Regions from separate parts of the Homo sapiens genome. Here region 2 is linked to region 1. A link means that fine-mapping ties the variant in region 1 to the expression of a gene that starts in the linked region. Tissue or cell type: substantia nigra. Region 1 holds a variant in brackets; the other region holds the start of a gene. All regions are shown on one strand. Distances are between the middles of the regions.

Region 1 (8,057 bases):
TGCTTTTATTTTGTATCTCATCTTTGTTATATCATCTTGATATCTTCATAAATCTGCTTTTATCTCATTTTGCAAGAATATTTGTATAAAAATAAAAAGGGATGATTTCCACAGAATTTAAACAAAACCCCTACAGACTCTACTAAAGGTTTCATTAGATTCTTTAAAGATGTATTACGTATAAATATGCAAAAGATGTGTTAGAATTTAAACTCCAGGAAAAAAAAATGTTTCAGAAAACATGATTAACATGTTAATAATGGCACCTAACTCTCCAAAAAGTGTGGCAAAGATTCAGTGAGAAAACATACATTGCCTGCCATACATGAAAGACAGAGGAAGCGTATGCTATAGCACAGGTTGGTGTGTGTGGGGTGTGAGACTTCTGTGAGTACTAGAGTTCCTACGTATCCCTGTTGATGTTACACAATATTGAGACCCAATTTTCTATCTTAATAAAAACATATGTGGTGAATTTGTAATGGTCCAATTTGTCACGGCAATTTATTATTCTACTTCCTAGAGCACTTTAGAGAATACTTTTTAAATACTGATTTAAAAAAAAATAAAAAGAGGCACAACATCTCCCTGAACCAGTAGGTGCCAACAGTTATCATCATCTCCGTTTTGCCTATGATATAAATTAAAGCCTAAAGGTTATTTACCTCAGTTCAAGAACAGCCAAGCAATGGGAGATATGGAACCAGAAGCTCGAATGTGTAATTCCTAAACCTGAATTAGTTCATTGAGTCAGTCAGCCTTGTAAGCACTAGTAAGCAATTCAAGATGAAAAACTAAACATTATTTTTCTTTCATACTAAAAATTTTTCACTCTGTTCCCACAGAGAAATAGGGTCTACATCCCATGGCCTTGAATCTGGGTGGTCTCTGTGACTGTTTGGCCAGTAAAGCCATAGCAAAAGTGAAGCCAGCCCAGATTCCAAGTCTACACCTTATGAAACTGGTAGCTTTCACTTTCTGTCTCTTGGAACACTCTCTCTGGAAACACTTAGTCACTATGTAAGAAGTTCTACTACCCTAAAGCCACCCTACTAGAGAGGCCATGTGTAGACACTCCAGACAACAAGCCCAGCTGAGCCCCACTTTCTAGCCAGTGGCAGTCATGTGAGGAAAGCCATCCTGACCCTCCTGACAAGCCGACCCACCAGCTGAAAACCACTGAGTGTCCTCAGTCAATTTGAAATGGAGCGGAAGAATCACCCAGCAGAGGCATGCCCAAATGCCCAAGCAACAAGGTCCTGATATAATAAAATGATTGTTATTTTTAGCCACTAAGTTTTGGAGCAATTTGCTATGCTGCAGTAGATAATAAGAACAGAATTTGATACCTGGAAGTGGAGTGCTGCCATAACTATCTAAAACATGTGGCCATGGTTTTGGAACCAGACAATGAGCAAACGCTGCAAAGATCTTGAGGACACTGTTAATGAGAATAGAAAAACCTGAAGGAGACTTCTAGTGAATACTTAGAGGAAGATAGTACAGGAATTACTATTGGAGGCTGGAGAAAAAGTGACCCTGGTTATGAAGTGGCAGAAATTTTGACAATACTGTTGCCTGTTGTGATCTAGACAATAGAATATATACCTAATGAACTGATGGATTTGGCTGGGTTTGGATCTCTGATAGGAATGCCAGAAGTGCCAAATGATTTGTTTTATGCATGTATAATACTGTATAGAAAAAGGTGAGCTTAGAAATGAAATGTTTATTGTAGTTAAATAATTAGTTATATTATTTTGTCATATTACTATGTAATTCCTAGGAAGCAGGACTGAGATGTAATAAAAGAATGTGGACATGTGACCAGTAAGATTTCAGAAATACTACAGACTAGGGACTGCTCTTTGCTTTTCATTCTATTTTTGAATGAGAATGCCAACTGCATTTTTCTTACCTTCATCTCGACATTGTGTATTGGGGATGGAGGAGCAAATAATGTGTTTCTTTAGTCCACAGGTCGAGAGGAACCATACTTGAAGAAACATACCTGAAGGGTTTCATCCATATGTGGGCCTGATTTGGATGATAAAATCCTGCATCTTGAGCCTGATCTTGATGCTGCCTGTGTTCTGATGCCATCAGGAGTTGAGAGTCTAGGGGTTTTAGAAAGGGTGAATGTATTTTCCCATAGGCAAGGAACATAATCAATGGCCAAAATGTGCACTGTGACAGATTAAAGGTTGCTACAAATTCTCTGATACCCTTCCATTAAGAGGTAGGGCAGATATTCCCTCCCCTCAAATCTGGGTGGGCTCCATGACTTGCTTTGATCAACAGAAAACGGCAGCAGTGATGCTGGGCCAGTTGTTGGATCCAGGCCTTAAGAACCAACAACTTCCACTTAAGTTCTCTTGGAACACTGAGTCCCTGACTACCCTAATATCATGTTGGAAAGGCTACATGTAGGCACTCTAGTTGCCAGTCCCAGCCAAGACCAGCTTTTCAGCCATCCCCATCACTAAATTTGTAAATGAAGCCATCTTGGAATCTCCAGACCAGCTCATTTGGCAGCTGGGTATCATCAAGTTATCTCTGCTGACTCCACATGGAACAAAGGAATCACCCAGCTGAGCCCTATTCAAACTATTGACCAAAAAAATAGTGAGACATAATAAAATGATGTTTTAAGCCAGTAAGTTTTAGGATAATCTGTTACATAGCAAGAGATAACCAGGACACTAACTATACATGCATAGAGTAAACAGAGGTAGGCCTACTTTCCACATTGAATTGTGCTTTCTAAAGAGGTGATGATGAGTTACCTTTTTGTAAAGGTAATACATTTCAAATGTGCTAAGGATGCTTTCTCTTTTTCTTATCCATAAAACATGCAGACAATAGTCACTCTCTCCTTAGTTCATAAGAATTTTGAGAGGAACAAAGGAGATAATATATGTCAAAGGCATCTGCAAAGCATTTCTCACTAAGCAAATGTAAGACATTATTACTTTTATAGAAATTTAAGTAAAATACAGGGTTTTGTGCAATTTAAATAATCACCTAGTTTTTATCAACTTTGGAAGTTTAGCTAATCACATATCTGATTCTTCTACATACTCAGGTATTCATACACAGGTATAAAATTGCTGTCCAATAAACATAGACTTTCTTCAGTACTAAATTAAAGCAGTGCTTGTTAATAAAAAAATCAATAATACATTTTAGCACAATGTTGACATGTAACACGTATATTTTAACTCAAATATGTAAAGCACAACTGGTATTAGTTAATTCAATCAAGCATGCAACTCTTGAAGGAGGTGGGAGGATGCAGAAAACAGCTAGCTTGAAATGGAAACCACCCCTGTGCTGTCATTCTGCCTCATCTTGGTTCATGATGTTCTCATCTTTATGCACACTGTGCATAAAGGAGAGAGATAAAGGGGTGTTAAAATACTTTATTCTGTAGCACAGAATAAAGTGTTATGTAAGTACAGAAGTAGACACGTGCATTGTTTCTTGTTAGGAAACCTGAGACTGTGGAAAACTTGCTGAACTTCAGGTTACTGAACTCAAATATAATGTGATGTTTTATGCTTTTAATGATAGTTCTTCCCTCTCAGAAACTTAGCATGTATAGTCTTTGAAAGGTCTTTTCCTATATTTACTATCAAAAAGAAAGCTAAAAGCATATAAACACATGAGCACACGTGCATACAAAAAATTATCCCTTGGTAGCACTGGCAGTGTCTGCTCTTAACTCTAACCTTTCATTTAAACGGACAGTACACAGTGAATTGTCCAGTATCTCGGCTATCATGTCACGCAGTCATCTCTGCATCAGCTCCCCCTATCAATGCCTCTTTGGAGTCGGGCTCCAATCTGCAGAGCAGATAGAATTCCGAAAATCCTGAGCCCCTGTCGCTGTGAGCTTGTTTGCCAAGCACATCACAAGATGAGTGGTGAGATGCTGTTCACATATTGGCCCATTATCCCTTCAATATATGGAGCTTCAAGGATTTTCAGGGCCATATAACTGAAGAGAGTTTACCACCTACCAGAAGAAGGACCAAACTCTGACTGGAGAAATCTTGAAGGTGTAATTAACGTTTGTTTCCATCCCCCTTCAGCCAACACCTTTACTGCACTCACACCTGAGATTCAGGGAAAGTGCTAAAAAACAAAAACTTTTAGTAGAAGCTTCGAAAACATGGGCAAGACAAGACCCAGAATTCATTCTTATTTAGCATGTTGGACTGACTAAGTACATAAAAAGCAGCAGAAGTATTGAGAGCTTACCAGGTATCCTCAAAACAACCCTAAAACTAGATTATCCTCCTCATCCTACAAATGAGGAAACCAAGGAATAGGGAAATTGAGGAGCCCACTCAAGGTCACATGTCTGTCATTTATTGAAAGGAAAGAAACATCCAGCTCCTTGGACTTCAAACCTGAGCCATGTGCCTGGCCACTGAATTATACTGGGTTCTGGGTGAGGATGAGGGCAATAATGACAGCTGTCATTTATTGAAAGACAGCATAAGAGAGGAGAATCTGAGAAATTTAAGATAGGCAGAGCTCCAGTCTCAATTTCCAAATACCTCCATGACCCCAGGCAGGTTACTGAACATAGCTGAGTGTCAAGTTTTCATTTTAAGATGGGAATAATTACAACACTCACTTGTGGGGTTGGTGTGAGTTTTAATAATCTGTCAAGTGGCTGGCATTTAATAAGCACAAGAGATTAATTATTAGTAGTTACTATGTGCCAGGCACCATTCATGTATTCATGTTTCATTTAACCTAACTATAAACATAAAAGGAAAATATTATACCCATTTTACAGATACATAAACTGAGGCCTAGGATTGCCTAGAATCACATAGTTAAGTCAGGATTTGATCCCAGGCCTAAGATTCCAAAACCT[G/C]TGTTAGTTACACACCGTTATTTGGCCTCTCTCAATACACTAGCTTATGTCAACCTGTGCCACAAATGACTTTTTCAATAATCAGTTAACATGTGTCAGCTACTAATGTGGTGAGGCTGTATTGTTGAGTTAACCTATTGCTTTTCAAATTCTATTTTATGCTCTAATGCTCAGGAGAAAAAGACATTTAACTTATATGTAACTTATCTCTCTTGGGAAAATTATTGAATTTATAAATGGTAGCACTTTAAGAAAATATCAAAGATAGCTTAATTTCGAGAAAATGAGTCTGGACTAAGAATCAGGACACTTGGCTTTTGTTTTCCTTTGCTTTTCACAATTCTCCACTGACTAGCTATGTGCACTTAGACATGTCCCTTAACCTACAAATACCTCTACTTCGTTTCCATGAAGAGAGACATGAGCTTGAAGGGTATCTTCTGATTCTAAGTTGTTACTATTTAGTGCCTGCGACACATATGCACATATGCACACGCAGAATTCAAGAGCCTCTAGAGCAGTAGTTTTTCTCACTATCCAACAACATCGTTGTTGCTTAAAGAGCTGTTTCAAAGCTCAGATTTTGGGAACCTTCAGAATCTGACTTGGTTAATCAGGTTGAAGCTGGAGGATCTATATTTTGTGAACACTTCCCAGCTTCTTCAGGAGAGAAGTTAGGCCTGGTAATCACTGCTTCAGACCACTTTGCGGGTTTGGCAAAATAACCATGCCCTGAAACCACGAGGATGACCGAAGCCTGCCTCACGACCTCTGTTCCATGGAGGAAGTTCATTGATAAGGCAGAGCTGTAACGCACCAAGTTTGCATTTCTTGGCCATATATTATTACACGGTGTGTAGGTGGAAAAAAAAATTTACAGATTATTTTCCTGTAGAAAAGGGAATGCTGCCAGGGGCGGTGGCTCAGGCCTGTAATCCCAGCACTTTGGGAGGCCGAGGCGGGAGGATCACGAGGTCAGGAGATCGAGACCATCTTGGCTAACACGGTGAAACCCCTTCTCTACTAAAAATACAAAAAATTAGCCGGGCGTGGTGGCGGGCACCTGTAGTCCCAGCTACTCGGGAGGCTGAGGCAGGAGAATGGCGTGAACCCGGGAGGCGGATCTTGCAGTGAGCGGAGATCGCGCCACTGCACTCCAGCCTGGGCGACAGAGCAAGACTCCGTCTCAAAAAAAAAAAAAAAAAAAAAAAAAAAAAAAAAAAAGAAGGAAAGAAAAGAAAAGGGAATGCTGTCCTGATGGCATCAATTTTAAAACTGGAGTAAAACTCTAGAAAGCAGTAGAATTAACCTACTTATTAGTGGCATTCCTAGTATGGATAATTACATTCAACTTGAGAATCACCCAAAGTCGAGAAAAAGCATGATCAATAAGACCCAAATACATGATCAGTACATGAACACCAAACTTGTATTCTAGTAGATAGATTTAGTGAGCTGGGATCATGACATGATACCTAAACAGGTAATAAAATTGAACATGAGGGGCAAAATGTATTGAAGAGAGTCCAAAGACAAAAACAGTAATATATCTATATGAAGAAATGAGTTATAGCTATTTACCACTGTCAAACCCACCTGAAGTCAGTGTAGAAGGGATGCCACCAGTCAGAAAGGAATGGGTCATATTTTAAAGCATTAAAGCATGAATATCACCCAGACCATCATAGTAAACATGTATGTATCAAAGGACCAATGATACCATGTGTAAAGGGCTGAAGGTTATGTAGGCACAGTCCAGTGTCAACATTTCTAAAACTTAAGGATTATGCAAGCCAGCAAGTAAATGCACAAAAATCATTTGCCAATTTAAAGAGAAATTCTGTGTGTGAACCTCAGTAATTATTTTTCAGGTGCTATTTTCAAAATGGAGCTAACAACTCTGTCTACAGAATGTTTGACAATTATTAAATTATAATCTACAACCACACTCAACTCCTTGGCAGAAAAAGACATGTGAGGAAAGGGGTGAAATGGATGAGAGCAATATAGTCCTTAAAAACACCTGGACACCCTCCCATATAAGCTTCAGAAATCACAAGGATCAGGCATTCTTCGAGATCTAATCTCAAAACTTCATCAGGTGTTTATTATGTACTGTTAAGAAAAAAGCTTAATGACAAACTGAATCCTACATAGATGACTAGCTGCCTGATTGCTCTGCCCAGAGGGTCATAGGAAACATAGGGATCAAAGGGTGTATCCATGTTCATGGAAGCTGAACTCCAGTTTCACTGTCTTCTGCTTCCCTTAGGTACATTTTATTAAGTCTTCTGGGCTGAATTTGGAAATCCTTGATGTTGGAAGAAAAGCTGACCTATTTCCTTATGCTGGAGCTTTTCTGAGCTGATGTTCCTCCAAAATTACATTTTTAGACTAAAAGATAACTAACCAGCATCTTGATTTCAATCAGGAAACAATAAAATATGATGCTGTTTGGGTTATTTTCTTATCTTATTATTTGTTGGCTGGGTATTCACTTAAACCAGCCTGCCCTATATGTTAAATATCAACCTAAGTCTAAAATATTTTACCAGATGGCTTCTTAGTAAAACTCAATAAAAGTGAACAGAAGGAAAATCCAGAGCACAGGACCAGCCAAATAACCCAAATAGACTCAACCTAAGTCCTCTTCTTAGACTCATTATCACATTACAGTATCTCTTCACCAACACCAAACCCCTTCTGAGGTGACAGAGGGAGGCAAGAAAAGTTTGTGTTTTGTGTTATATTTATTTCCTTTGAAGTCATAAGCCACATATCATCTCCTTTTCAAAATCAAATACTCCTGACTTCCTCCATCATTCCTTTCTCTAATGTTCAGAGGGCTCTTCGTCTATCCCCATCTTCCCTAAGCCCAGATAAACTTAAGCTTGTTCACTGTCTCAACTGTCGCTCATAAAATATATAATACAGTAGAAAGAGTACTGTTTGGGCAGGAGATCTGAGTTCTAGGTCTAATCCTGCCACTTGCTAGTTTTGGGACCTACAACAAGTCTTAAACTATTCAAGGCTTCAGTGGCTTTATTACTGTAATAATGCATTTGGAAGGGTTGCTATTGAGGATCTAAAATTTTCTAGCTACATTTTCTATAATTGTAGCACTATTGGCTAGCTCCTGAAATTAAGCAAAGATCTCAGGGTTGTC
Region 2 (8,057 bases), 750 kb before region 1:
CCTGCCCTCCTAAGCACTTAATCAGATCTATTATCCTGTCTCTCCTTATCTGGAAACTTATTTCTATCAACATTTAAACATATATACAAGCTTCTCTCATCTTCAAAAGACAATTCTCCCTTAATTTCATGAATCAAACACCTCCAGCTACTGCATTTTTTCATTCCCTCTTCTCAGCTAAGCTTCTTAAAGATGTCTACACTTACTTCCCACTTGCATTCCATTTCTGCCCCATTATTGGATTAGGATTCCACTATTTCACTGAGACTGCTCTCACTTAACTAACAGAAGATTACTTTGTTGTTAAATCCATTGGACACTGGACCTTACATTACTTGGCTTCTCAGTTCCATTTGACACTATTGTCCATTCTCTTTTTTAAAAAAACCTTTTTTCTCTTGGCTTCCTTGATACCTAAGTACCTTATGATCTACATATTCAAAATTAACTTGGTCATTTCTGCTTAACCTCCTTCCCAGGTGCATGGCATCATCTGCAGGTTGTCCAAGCCAGAAACGTAGAGTAGTCATCCTTGACTCCTTCCTCCTTCTCACTTGTTAACTACCTCTTACATGTTTCATAGCTGGATTGCTGCAACAGCCTCCTAACGGTCCTTTCTCCAGTTTTGCTCCCATCCAATCCAGAGTAATACTCTGGAGGGAAAGATCATAGTTATACTGGCCACTAGATTCTAAATATTTTCTATAGGTAAGTTTGAAAATTAGGCACCAAGCTTCCTGACAACCAAGACAAAATTGAAGGAAAAGTAATCTTCATACTTCTTAATGCTTGTTCTAATTCTAACACTCTAAACCAAATTTCTCAGGAGGAGATTTATAAAGGAAGCAATAAATGATGTAATGAGCAATGGCTCAACAACATTCCTATGATATATCCTATAATTTCATTTGGCAAGTATTTATGGAGTACTTACTACAAGCCAGGCACTGTGCTCACCACTGGGGAAAAAAATGTGAATGTGGTTGTTTCTTATCTAATCTCATTATTAAAACTGAGTTTTTACATAATATTAAATGCAATCCTCTGAAGACAATTTGGCTGGGAAAGGGCTTATTTCCCGAGCCATCCCTGCCTGGTAGTTTAAAACCAGGGTCAAAATAACAGCTACTCAGTGTTCCCCTGCTTCCTGCAACCACCCTAACACCCCCACCCACACGGTCCTACCCTGGGTCAGGACTTCCAGTCTCTCTCTTTCTCTCTCTCTCTCTCTCTCTCTTTTTTTTTTTTTTTTTTTTTTTGAGATGGAATCTCACTTTGCCGCCCAGGCTGGAGGGCAGTGGTGCAATCTCGGCTCACTACAACCTCTGCCCCCAGGTTCAAGCGATTCTCCTGCCTCAGCCTCTCGAGTAGCTGGGATTACAGATGTGTGCCACCACACCCGGCTAATTTTTGTATTTTTGGTAGAGACAGCGTTTCACCATGTTGCCCAGGATGGTTTCAAACTCCTGACCTCAGGTGATCTGCCTGCTTTAGCCTCCCAAAGTGCTGGGATTACAGGCGTGAGCCACCGCGCCCGGCCCAGCCTCTTTTAAATTGCAGCTCACTGCCACTACTATCACACACAAAATACATCTGGACTCCCCATGGTTTGTCTCACATGTGTTGACAAACAGTGCTTTTAACAACCACATGAAATCAGCTATTTTCCACCCTCACTCTGGTTTCTTTTGGAGATCTGCTGCTAAGTTGTTCCCCACACTTCCCCACACTCCCCCTCCAACAGGACACATGAGCCCTGACAGGACCATTGCTGTATTAGTCCGTTTTCACACTGCTATAAAGATACTACAATTTATAAACAAAGGAGTAAATTTACTCACAGTTCTGCATGGCTGAGGACAGGGGGAGGCCTCAGGAAACTTATAATCATGGCAGAAGGGGAAGCAGGCACCTTTTTCACAAGTTGGCAGACCAGAGAGGAGAAAGAAGGAGGAATTTCCAAAAACTTATAAAACCATCAGATCTCCTGTGTGGAGAGAGAGATCCTTCTTTCTCTTCTTATAAAGCCATCAATCCTACTGGATTAGGACCTCACATTTATATCTTCACTTAACCAAAATTGCTACTGGAAAGGGGTCCTGATCCAGACTCCAAGAGAGAGTTCTTGGACCTCGGGCAAGAAAGAATTTGGGGCGAGTCCATAAAGTGAAAGCAAGTTTATTAGAGAAAAAGAGAAACAAAAGAATGGCTACTCCATAGACAGAGCAGGGGCATGGGCTGCTCAACTGAAAATACTTATGGTTATTTCTTAATTATATGCCAAACAAGGGGTGGATTATTCATGAATTTTCTGGGAAAGGAGTGGGATTTCCTGGAACTGAGGGTTCCTCCCCACTTTAGGCCATATAGGGTAACTGCTGGCCCCGACATTCGTAAATTGTCATAGTGCTGATGGGAGTGTCTTTTAGCATGCTAATGCATTATAATTAACGTAAAATGAGCAGTGAGTTTGACCATAGGTCACTTCCATCAACATCTTGCATTTGGTTGGTGTTGGCCAGCTTCTTTACCACTTCCTGTTTTATCAGCAGGGTCTTTTTGACTGGTTTCTTGTGATACCAGTCCTGCTGACCTCCCCCCTCATCCTGTGACTGAGAATGCCTAACCTCCTGGGAATGCAGCCCAGTAGGTCTCAGCCTCATTTTACCCAGCCGCTATTCAAGATGGAGTCACTATGGTTCAAATGCCTCTGACAGAATCACCTTCTAAAAGTCCTATGTCCAAATGCAGTCACTTAGTGGGTACGAATTTGGCGGGGGACACAACTGAGTCCATAGCAAACAGTATTCGATTTTTAATCACATCAGCACACACAATAAGACTCTGAAAAGTGAGTCCCTTGGCTGGGCTAGGGAGAAAATTGTGACAATATGTAGTGTTCCAAAATGACCCTCCTCCCTGCATCAGGGAGGGGAGCACTCAGAACCTTCCAGCTTGGTGAACAGAATTTGTTCTCAGGCCAGGAGCCATGCTCTGTAAGTATGTTGTCTTTACATCTGGCCCAGTTTGATCTTTGGAGATAGACACATAGTGGGTCCCAGATTGTGTCCTGTTGCAAAGATCTGGAAACACAGGCTTGGGATACCTGTATATCAACAGAAACCAGACTAGCAGGTGGTAAGGCTGGCATTGTTCTGTGTTCTTAGGTTTTTTTTTGTTTTTTTTTTGTAGACGGAGTCTTGCGCTGTTGCCCAAGCTGGAGTCGTGTGGCGCGATCTCGGCTCACTGCAAGCTCCGCCTCCCGGGTTCACGCCATTCTCCTGCCTCAGCCTCCTGAGTAGCTGGGACTACAGGTGCCCGCCACCACGCCTGGCTAATTTTTTTTTTTTTTTTTTTTTGTATTTTTAGTAGAGACGTGGTTTCACCGTGTTAGCCAGGATGGTCTCGATCTCCTGACCTCATGATCTACCCGCCTCGGCCTCCCAAAGTGCTGGGATTACAGGCGTGAGCCATGGCGCCTCTTAGGTTCTTAATCACTGGGACACCCACAGGCAAGGCCTGGCTTTTTCCACAAGAAGTATTCTGGATGGAAGTAAACACATCAGTGACCTGAAAGTTCTACATGATTACAATGACTTAAGCTTGAGAATTTTTTTAAAAACAGAGAAGGGAGTAGTAAATGACTAAATATAAAGCACCTAGTGCTGTGTTTCGCAAATGGCAATCACTCGGCAGGTGTCTCAGCTCCTCGCTGCAGCAACCAGGCTTCCAGGACTGGAAGGAAGTCTTCTACATTCAAAACTAGACTCAAACTACTCCCCTCCACCACCCAGTTCTACTCCTGCGCTCGCGATCCTCCTGCCTGGCAAACTCCATGGCCCGACAGATTCACTACCACTCCACTGCCGGACCAGGCACGTCCGTGGGCCATCCACGCCTGGAAAACGGCTGGCTGGGCCGGAGGGGCGAGGCCCGCAGGCGAGGGGGGCGGGTACAAGCCACTTCTTGGGAGCCGCGGTACGCGCAGCCTTGTGGGAGTTGTAGTTTCCGCAGCTCTGAGTCTCCAGGCGAGGTGTCACCACAGGACTCGTTTTCCCGTGCTCCTGTGCGCGGGTCCACTTGGGACGGGTCCCTGAGTAGGTGAGGAGGTGGGTAGGAGCTTGCTTATAGAAAAGTGGAATCGAGTAGTCCTTGCTGGTGGAGCCGCTGCCGCCAGGGAACTCAGGGCCGGCTCCTGTTCCTTCAAGAGTGCTGGAGGCCAAACTTGAAATACAAGTTTAATGTTCCTCGTCGGGCAAAAGATAAGGATCCGATCTCCCCCGGCCCGGTGTGCAGCAGGAGCGACCAACCCCGACCCGGGTTAAAACTCCCAGGGACTCTTCGCTGCTGCCACCTCTTGTTCTCTCCCCCGTTCCCACTCGGGGTCTCCCTCAGGGCCGGGAGGCACAGCGGTCCCTGCTTGCTGAAGGGCTGGATGTACGCATCCGCAGGTTCCCGCGGACTTGGGGGCGCCCGCTGAGCCCCGGCGCCCGCAGAAGACTTGTGTTTGCCTCCTGCAGCCTCAACCCGGAGGGCAGCGAGGGCCTACCACCATGATCACTGGTGTGTTCAGCATGCGCTTGTGGACCCCAGTGGGCGTCCTGACCTCGCTGGCGTACTGCCTGCACCAGCGGCGGGTGGCCCTGGCCGAGCTGCAGGAGGCCGATGGCCAGTGTCCGGTCGACCGCAGCCTGCTGAAGTTGAAAATGGTGCAGGTCGTGTTTCGACACGGGGCTCGGAGTCCTCTCAAGCCGCTCCCGCTGGAGGAGCAGGTGAGAGGTCGGCCCGGGCTGGGGCTGGTGGGGCGAGGACCGTGTGCCAGGCCAGGAGTCTCGCCCTGACACACATCTTCAGAGCTTTACTCGCGCGGAGCGGGGCTCGGGTTGGGTCCAGAAGAAGGGAAAACAGCAGTAGCCAGTGACTCCCCAGGCTCTTGAGCAAAGGACCTGCTGGGGTTAGGACAGCCCCGGAACTTCCAGTTTTGCCCTGATGGCGCAGCCATCAGTAAGCGCTGCTTAAGACGCATGGGAGTCGCCTGGGGATCCTGCTACGTTGCAGATTCTGATTCAGCAGGTGTGGAGTAGTGCCCCAGGTCAGCATTTCTATTAAGGGTCTAGGTGAACTTGAATACAAGGGTGCAGTGCACTTCTGTGTGACCATTTTGAAGGTGGTTTGTCAGAGCTGAAGGGCTGAAGGGACTTTAGTGATAGGAACCACTCTTAACTGAGATTACAGTGGATAAGAGGTCGTTGCCTTTGGAAACAAACTTTATAACTGCTTTTTCTCAGGGTTTGCTGGAGGCCATTTGAGATCTCCTGAAGTTTTTTTTTGTAACAAGTGTTGTATTCTAGGGTTCTCCTTTTCTATTTAAGGTTACTAAACCTATAGTGGGAGGGATCTGAGGTCGGAACAAATTTAAAATGGGCTAGTCTGTGGCAGTAATGTTTTAAAAATCTGTCTGGTTTTGTCAGGATAATTATGACTAAAGCACAAATAGTTTAAAAAAAAATGATTATCTTTCCTGGATGTGACTTTTTATAGCAGAAAGGCCTAGTGAAGAGGAACAGGCAACCTGAAATCCCCAAACTCCCAGGTATTACACCTGTGGAGTGCTTTTGTATCGTTGGTCTTCCAGGTTGATGTTGGAGGAGGTCGAAAAGATTGTCCAAAATTGATGTTAGGTATACTCTTCATAATAACAGTTGCTTTCTAGAAACCTTCAGGATTGTGTCTTTACATTGTACAACTGGAAACCCATTTTTCAAGGTTGGCCGCACATGAAATTAAACTTCTAAAGCATTTTCCACATAAATAAATACATTTGGAAGGCACTTAATTCTATTACCAGGTTTCTAGTTAGCCTTACTCTGGCTTTACCACTTGCTCTCTGGAACCGGGATTTCTTCTTTCATTTTGATTCTTTGATTTTTTTTTCAGTCTCTTACTTTGCCTTTTTATATTAGATCACTAAATTTTCCTTATGATTTTGTATACAGCCCATCTCTGATGCTCCCCTTCCCCCAATTCTTCTCTATTTATTCTTGGTACAGAAGGACTGGGGAATCACATGTAGGAATATATATTATATTCACGTAGAAGACAAAAAATTATCAGTGGTAATGGAGAGTAAAACTTTGAATGTGTAGGCCTAGACCTAGTATGTACCATATATATATATATATATATCCTGAAGGCACTAGGAAAAGATTTAGATTCTTTTAGGGCTTTATCCCTAAGGGAGAGTGGGTGTGTGATGGATATCTTCTGCCTTTATGGTTGAAAGGTCCGTTGTAGCTTAGGATACCAGCTTCATTCATCTTCAATCTGTGTAGCCACAAAATAGCATCTGAATCCATGGCCTGACTTTGCAATTAGAGAAGGCATATTACCTCTCCTTTCTGCTCATATTCTCCAGACTTTAGACAGATGCTTTAAACGTCTTCGGCTCTCTAGTATAAAGTTGTGTGCATGAAAATCAGGGGTGAACCAACTCTCTTTCAATTTAGGCTATGAGCAAATATTAGCCTCTTAAAACTTGTTTCTGGATAGTCTCTGTCCAGTGTTCATTTCAAGATCCAATTTGATAGAGGTTGTTATTGGGATTTTTTTTTTTGAGACAGAATCTTGTTCTGTTGCAAGGCTGGAGTGCAGTGACGCGATCTCGGCTCACCGCAACCTCCGCCTCTCGGGTTTAAGCAATTCTCTTGCCTCAGCCTCCCGAGTAGCTGAGACTATAGGTGCACACCACCAGGCCCGACTAATTTTTGTATTTTTACTAGAGACGAGGTTTCATCATGTTGGCCAGGATGGTCTCGATATCTTGATCTCATGATCCGCCTGCTTCAAGTCTCCCAAAGTGCTGGGATTACAGGCGTGAGCCAGCACCCGGCCGTTATTGGGATTTTTTAATCTTCTTGGTTCTGCTATTAATTATAGTCAGAAGGGACTGCCTGGCAAAAATTTTTTGTCTTTGGTACATGTTTCCTGATTTCTGACTGGTTTATAGATTAATATATGTGACAAGTCACTTCATTCAGCCATCTCACAAATTCTCAGAAAGTAGCATGATTTAAAACTAGATGTTTTGGCTGGGTGTGGTGGCTCATGCCTGTAATCCCAGCACTTTGGGAGGCTGAGGCAGGTGGATCAAGAGGTCAGGAGTTCGAGATCAGCCCGGCCAAAATGGTGAAACCCCATCTCTACTAAAAATACAAAAATTAGCCCGGTGTGGTGGTGGGCGCCTGTAATCCCAGCTACTCGGGAGGCTGAGGCAGGAGAATTGCTTGAACCCGGGAGGCGGAGGTTGCAGTGAGCCAAGATTGGGTCACTGCACTCTACCCTGGGTGATAGAGCAAGACTCCATCTCAAAAACAAAAACAAAAAACTAGTGTTTTATTGGGTTGTTTTCTTATGGCTTGAATGGCTGTTGGTTTAACCTGTTTTGCTAAAAGATTGTGCTTTGGAAATAAAAATATAGAACTTGATTGGCCATTTTTTTTCCTGATCATTAGAGCAGATCCAAATGCACTATCAAAAGAAAAGATTTGGCACTGCTTCCAGGCTTCCCTCAACTCCCCTGGGTGTCAAGATGGCCTCCACCCAGGGAGATTCCTCAGTTTTTATAAAATAAAGTCCAACCTACCCCAGCTTCACTGTTGATTAAGACATTTGGGTCCCTATTTATTTGACAATATAGATGAGCTGGGAAGCATAATGTAAGAATCTTTTATTGCTTAGTACCTTTCCAAAACTCAGCTAAAAGAAGCGGTATTCAAGAAGCATTACATGAGGTCCACCCATTCTTCAGGATCGATGGTTCTTAACCGTGGTGAACATTGGAGTCAACTGGAAAGCTTTAAAAAATACACATGCCAGGGTCTCCCTCCGAAGGATTCTAATTTAATTGGTCCGGGGTATCCAGATAATGTAAAAGACTCTCTGGTGAAGCTTGAGAATTATCTGGACTGAAGAGCATTAAAAAAGTGGAGGCCCCACTTTTTTGGGGGATAATCCAAATGCGGTTATCCCAGGTTGGGACTCAGGCATCAGTAACTTTT

Evidence for each region. PIP is the estimated chance that this variant, and not a neighbour inherited with it, causes the effect.
Region 2: it holds the start of ACP6, and the variant in region 1 is fine-mapped to the expression of ACP6 in substantia nigra (GTEx, PIP above 0.99).

Annotation. Positions count from the first base shown.
Region 1 is chr1:146,919,584-146,927,640 of GRCh38, reverse strand. No RefSeq gene overlaps it. Among named protein-coding and RNA genes, the nearest start is that of NBPF12, 15 kb to the left of the region's middle. The variant G/C (reference allele first, on the strand shown) is at 4,892.
Region 2 is chr1:147,666,545-147,674,601 of GRCh38, reverse strand. It overlaps ACP6 (acid phosphatase 6, lysophosphatidic), which reads left to right and starts at 4,078. Exons shown (of 10, transcript NM_016361.5): 1 at 4,078-4,772. The coding sequence starts at 4,554. RefSeq lists enhancers at 3,616-3,685, 4,126-4,375, 5,016-5,075, 4,287-5,230.